Regions from separate parts of the Homo sapiens genome. Here region 2 is reported to be linked to region 1. The links are microRNA targets in miRTarBase. Many come from high-throughput screens and were not tested one by one. Region 1 holds a microRNA gene; the other region holds the end of a gene's coding sequence.

What was found. Region 1 holds the annotated microRNA hsa-miR-6812-5p (AUGGGGUGAGAUGGGGAGGAGCAGC, at 1,403-1,427, opposite strand). A microRNA usually pairs through its seed, bases 2 to 8, with sites in the 3' UTR of a target mRNA and lowers its output. Matches are read on the target gene's strand: a 7mer-m8 pairs with bases 2 to 8, a 7mer-A1 pairs with bases 2 to 7 and ends in A, and an 8mer does both.
Region 2: miRTarBase lists SLC66A2 as a target of hsa-miR-6812-5p. The part of its 3' UTR that is shown has no 7-base or 8-base seed match.

Annotation. Positions count from the first base shown.
Region 1 is chr20:45,423,794-45,426,941 of GRCh38, reverse strand. It overlaps MIR6812 (microRNA 6812), which reads right to left and starts at 1,432; the gene lies at 1,369-1,432. PIGT (phosphatidylinositol glycan anchor biosynthesis class T) reads right to left here. Exons shown (of 12, transcript NM_015937.6): 10 at 2,561-2,726; 11 at 2,363-2,446; 12 at 701-1,368. The coding sequence ends at 1,116.
Region 2 is chr18:79,901,419-79,904,418 of GRCh38, forward strand. SLC66A2 (solute carrier family 66 member 2) reads right to left here. Exons shown (of 6, transcript NM_025078.5): 6 at 1,002-2,765. The coding sequence ends at 2,558. Among named protein-coding and RNA genes, the nearest start is that of SLC66A2, 49 kb to the right of the region's middle. RefSeq lists an enhancer at 2,749-3,000.

The DNA.
Region 1 (3,148 bases):
GGTAGGAGGTGGGGGGAACTGCAAATAACACACAGTTGATGCCAAGTGTGCCAGAGGAAAAGACAGAAGATGAGGGCAGTGGGAGGCAACCGCCTAAAGGCTTGTTTTACAGAAATCCAGGGTTATGTAACCAGCAAGGGAGGTGGGCGGGGCGGGCTTCAATCCAATGAGCCTGGCTTCAAAGCCTGGGGGTGGTCTGAGGACAGAGCACAGCAGGAGCTCCTGAGAAGCCTGCTAAAAAGTCAAAGTCTGGGCCACACCCAGACCAACTGAATTAGTAGGATCTGGACCCCAGGAACATACATTATTTTCACAAGTGCCCCCAGTGACTCTGATGCACACTACAGTTAGAGACCCACCACCCAGAGCCCTCCCACCTCTCCACTCTACCCTTGCTGATGTGGACTGACTCTCAATGCCCCCAAGAAGTAGGATGATTCATTTCCATGGCCATGGATTATGCTTTCAGAAACACTCCCAAACAACCCGGGGAGTTCTGGGAATCACAATCAGATGGGGATGGGGAGGACAGGGGGAGCAGATCAGGAGAAGAAATTTCCGGCCAGGTGGGAGGAGGTAGGGTTTTTTGTTTTTTGTGGAGGGGGTTGCAGGCATAGGGTAGGAGGTCCTGTTCAGGCACTCAGCAAACAATCCCCAGTCCCCAGCTCTTCCCAGGACTCAAGGACAAGAGGCAAAGAACCACGGAAACAGCCGTTTTTATTCCACAAACAGTAAACTCCATCCACTACACAGTGACATACACTGTGTAGCACACCCCATCACCTTGGCCAGTGCTGCCAGCCGACCTTTCTGTGGTGATGGAAATCTTTTTCTGTGCTGTCCAATACAGCAGCCACCGACCACTTTTGCTTATTGAGCACCTCAATATAGAGGTGGCCACTACAGGTGAGGAAATGAATTTCTAAGTTAATTCAAATTCAAATGCCACATTTGGCTCGTGGCTCCTGTACTGGACAACACAGCTGTAGGCCCTGACCTGGTCCAGGGCACTTTGGTTCAAAAGCCAACTCTGAGGAGAGCAAGTGGCAGAAACAGCCCTTGGGCTCCCCTCCCCAGAGAGAAACGGCAGCTGCAGCTGCTGGAAAGGGCAAGAATCAGAGTGGGGGGACACCTCGGGCGCGCCGGATAAGGTTGGCCAGCCGCTTGGCCAGGCCACCTGTGCGGGGCTCCTCGATGTGGAAGGTTCGGGTGAGGAGATTGTAGAAGGAGCCATAGCACACGGCCACCACAGTGCACGTGAGGCAGATCACGTTGTAGGGCATGCTGAAGTCCGGTGTCGGCAGGTTCACCAGCAGCGGCTCCGTGTAGAGCCGCACAAAGTAGTTAGAGCCATCAGAGACTGGGAACCTGGGGTCAGGGGAAGAGCGGTGAGACAGGACTGGCTGCTCCTCCCCATCTCACCCCATCCTCATTCCGGCAGTATTGGGCAATGCAACACAGTGTTTCCAATGTTCTCTTAGGCTCAAAACCTTTCAACAGAAGGCATAGCTCAATCTCTAAACCTGATAAAGGGGAGCGGCGGGCGGGGGGCAAGGGGAGGGAGAGCATTAGGACAAATACCTAATGCATGCGGGGCTTAAAACCTAGATGATGGGTTGATGGGTACGGCAAACCACCGTGGCACATATATACCTATGTAACAAACCTGTATGTTCTGCACATGTATCCCAGAACTTAAAGTAAAATAAAAAATAAATAAGAAAGAAAGAAAGAGAAAGAAAGAAAGAAAGAAAGAAAGAAAGAAAGAAAGAAAGAAAGAAAGAAAGAAAGAAAGAAAGAGAAAGAAAGAAAGAGAGAGAAAGGAAAGAAAGAGAGACGCCTGGTGTTGAGGTGGAGGAAAGGGGCCCCGCCTTTGCTTGGTTGCTTCTTTCTTAGCCTGGTTTCAGCCTAAATGCCACCTCCTAAATGAAGCCTTCCTAGATAACCCAGTAAATCAATTCCTACCCAACCTCTAACCCCATTACTCTCTAGACCAGAATCTTCCTTCTAGACTGTAAGCAAAGGGAGGCCAGGGCCAAGTCTGTTTTGTTTAATCTTGCACACTCAGTGCTCTCAGAAGCACTTGGCATTTGATAAGTGCTTGATTAAATATTTAAGAGCATCAAGAAGTAAATGTAGGCTGTAAGTAAAAGTATTCTTCTAGAAGCACTTTAAAATCATTTTATAAAGTCTTCACAAATTCCACAGACTGCCAGGATTTTTATTAGGATTGAATTAAATCTACACATCTCTTTGGAAGATGTAACATCTACCCTGAACTCCCCTGCAGGAGCCTGGTCACCTGTGTTAAGGCCCAGCAGGCAGCTGAGGATGTGTTATCAGTGAGTGTGGTCACACTTACAGGCTGTTGAAGAGGGGACTCTCTTCCCAGTCCACTGGCTTGGCTGCTACCATGCTGGGCACAAGGGCGCTGAGGACAGATGGGCTACAGAGAAGCAGAGAGATGGCCCGTGTTCCCATCTGGCTGCCCTATCAAGGGGTAAGCAGCAGAAAGGGTAGGTCAGGGGGATGAGAGGTGGCCTGTGGGGGTGGAGCCCACCTGACATAGAAGCCATGGTTAGGATCTGGCGTGTACTCGGTCCACTTCAGCAGCGCCCGCTCAAACTGGATGGAAACCTTGGTGACTGAGTTGGCCGGCAGCTGAATCAGCATCTCCAGGAGGTGGGGTTGCAGCCGGTCCTGGGCAGGCTGGTAGTGGATGTAACCTGGAGACATGCAAGGTCACCCACATCTCTTTCCTGGGGTCAGGCTACCTGCTGCCCCTGTCCCTGCTGCTTGCCATGGAGCCTCAATCTGGGTGCCTAGAAGATGGGCTTGGGAGCATAGAAGCCAGGCAGGCAAGGGAAGAAAGCAGGGGCTAAGAAAAGGGAGAGGATGTTTCCAGGGCAGTGATCCCAGGATGCGATCAAGAGAGGTTGTTAGGAGTGCTGCAGATGGCTAATCAATCTTCACATCACTACAACTGGGGCACCAGACACCAAGTGCCTGATGTGACGCAAGAAGAAGTTCACAGAACCACCTGGGAATTTTTCTTGCCAAAAATGTGGGACATGAATCTAATCAGGTTTCTAAATCTAACCACCAACACACAAGAAATATAGGAGAGGAGGGGTGTGTTAAACACTAG
Region 2 (3,000 bases), not on the chromosome of region 1:
GCCCAGTGGGCCGCTCTCTCACACAAGCCCCTGGGAAGGGCACAGGGCTGGGGCTCAGGGCAGGTCTCAGTTTCCTCATGGGGTGAGGGGAATGTGAACTTCCCAGGCTCTCACAACCCGCTCTCTCCCACGGAGGGGCCCTCACTGGGAGCCCTCCTCGGCCTCCTGCTTCCTTGGTGCTTCTTTGTTGCTTAAAACCATCAGAAGGCATCACAGGGTGGCAGTGACCTGAGAGTTCAGAAACGCAGCTATTTCCACCGCTGCCCCCACCTGCCACGGCCCCTGCAGTGCGGGGCTGAGACCTTGCTCCCATTTCCTGTTAAAACCCAGAGTGGTCCCCAAGAACCGCCTGTCTCCACACCCTGAAGACACACAACCCCATCCCTGCGCTAGATCTCGGGTTCATCTGGCACCGCCCGCCAGCACTTGAGGAGGGCGATTTGCATCTGAGACGTTCCAGACACGCTAGCCTTCATCATCTCCAGTCTTCCCCCAGGCTGCTGCCTGGACGTGGCCTGTGCCCTCTCCTAGTACCCAGATGGGCCCTTCAACCCAAATCCTGCCCTGCACCCACACACCTGGTTTTTTACTGGACAAAGAAACATCTTGCCTTCAATGTAAACTGCACAGAAAAAATCGCTATGCACACACAGCTCCATCTGTATGTGCTGCTCCAAGATCGCAAATCTGGAAACACTTCTCTTGGCCTTTACAGGAGACCCTTCCCATGCTCTAAGCCTTCGGTGGTGGGAGGCAGAAGGGCGGATGTGGCCAGGGCAGCTAGAGGCAGTGCCAGACCCGTCTGTGAGGAGCCAAAAGGACCCCCGGGCTGCCGGCCCACAGGCACAGGCCAGTGACAGGTCGAGGGGGCTGGGCTGTTGTTTGGGGCCCTGGAGGAACCCAGGTCACACAGGGGCCTTCTAAGGTGGCCCAGGCTACAAGGGTGTGTCTGGGCAGAGGCCAGGACCACAGCCAGATCCTTCCCTCTGCCCAAGGCCAACTCAGGATCCACAAATGGTTTATTGATTCCAAGTCGCCACACAGGGTACATTCAGCAGTCACTGCGCCTGCAGTCGGCGACAGTTTAATGTGAGGCAATTACCGCTACAGACATCTTGCTTCATCTTAAAAAAATAAAAATTTTCAAAGCATCTCACAGGCCAAAGAGCTAAGCAGGACCCTCACTCAGACATTCAAGAGTGTTTCCGAGGAAAACTCGAGGAGGAGGCAGCGTGGAACATCTTCCCATGGCCACGGCCCCGGCACAGAGCTCAGATGCCTGCGGGAAGCGGCCCCTCCACCTGCGGAAGGGAAGACGATGCCTGTTGGAGCCGCACGGAAGCATCCAGAACTCTGAGGCCTGGGGGCCGGCTGCGGTCAGTGCAAGGCTGCTGACATGGTGTGACCTCTTGCAACGGGGTGGGGGCAGAGCGTGCGGTGACAAGGGTCAGACTGGCGGCTCCCACTGCAGCCAGAAGTGAGGGAGCCAGCACACGGGGGTGGGCAGTGGACAGGACAGGATGCGGCAGGCCCCAGTACCCCCCACTCAGGAATTTGCTTCAGGCCAAAAGCCCAGGGCAGCAGGGTAAGGCGCCATCGGCCAGGACCTGCACGGCAGGGGCAGCCCCCTCCACTCCCTGGACCCGAGACCGTCTCTCCTGGAAGATGGACATCAAAACTGCATCCGGAGGTGCAGTCTGCACCCAGAAGGAAGGGGATCTCCGCCAGCAGAGCCCAAGAGTGGCGTGCAGACTGCATGTGCACAGCCTCAGCCCGGCCCCCTCAGCCATTGCCCATGAGGGCCTCCACGTTGTCTGATGGTCGCTGGCATCTGCCACGTCCCCAAGGACTCGAGGAGAACCAGAGGCTGACAAGAGCAGCATGAGCTAGCCCTGGCGATGCTCAGCCGGGCTGGACACAGCGGATCCACAAGGCGTTCAGGCCTCGCAGCCACTCCAAAGGCCCAGGAAACACCGACTGTCAGAAAACCCGGAGCACGGTGACCCTGCGTCCGCACAGCCGCCTTTCCGTGTGTACCAGGCAGAGAAAGCCCCAGCCCTCCCCCGTGCCAGACCCCTGGGTAGCAGAGGCCACCCCAGTCCAAGCAGGGTGTCTGGCCAGGGTGTCACGGGGTCGAGGGCTCCGCTCACAGGCCTTACAGGGTCTCCTGCGGTCACCCCAGCTTCAAGGTTCGCGGCTGCTGGCCCGTGTGTCCACCTGGAGCAGGTTCCTGCAGGCCGCCCAATGTGTACCTTGGGCTCAGACGGTGTTTCATAAGAGGAAATGGGGAAAACACTTGCTTTTTATGTCATCCTAAAAACATCCAAAACCCTCGGGGCCAGATCAACCCTGGCTGTCCCCGCTGAGCACAAACAGCGTCCCAGCCCCACCCCCACTGCCCACCCTGAGACACCCCACAGAGGCTGATGGAGACCCCAATGCCCATGCCCCATCTCTGCCACACCTGCAGGGGCCACAGCACCCACCCTCCCCGCGGGGAGGTCAGGGCCCACCAGTGCCCGCGGCTGGCGGTCCCACATCCTCGTCCTCCCCACTGTCAGAGGGCCTTGGTGCCAGTGGGGTGCACGGCGTGGGGCGCCGGCTTCTGGGGGTGGCGGGCGAAGGCGTAGGCCTGCCCCAGGATGGCCAGGTCCACCAGCACCTGCAGCAGGCCGCACACGGAGAACTGCAGAGGGGCACCCTTCAGCAGGAAGTAGGCCGTCTTGAAGGCGTCACCACTGGTCCACATGAGCACCATCTTGATGCTGTGGAGACACAAGCAGGCGGTCAGCGGTGGGGAGGGCGGCGACCTGGGCTCAGTCAGTGGGGAGGCCTGGGGCTTAGACAGCGGGGAGACCTGGGGCTCAGGGGCACCCAGGGGGCTAAGGGGACCCCCAGGCAGTCGGCGGGGAGGCCTGGGGCTCAGGGGGCACCCAGGGGGTTGAGGGGACACCCAGTCTACAGGGTGACCCAGGGGTCAGGGACACCCCAGGGGGCCAA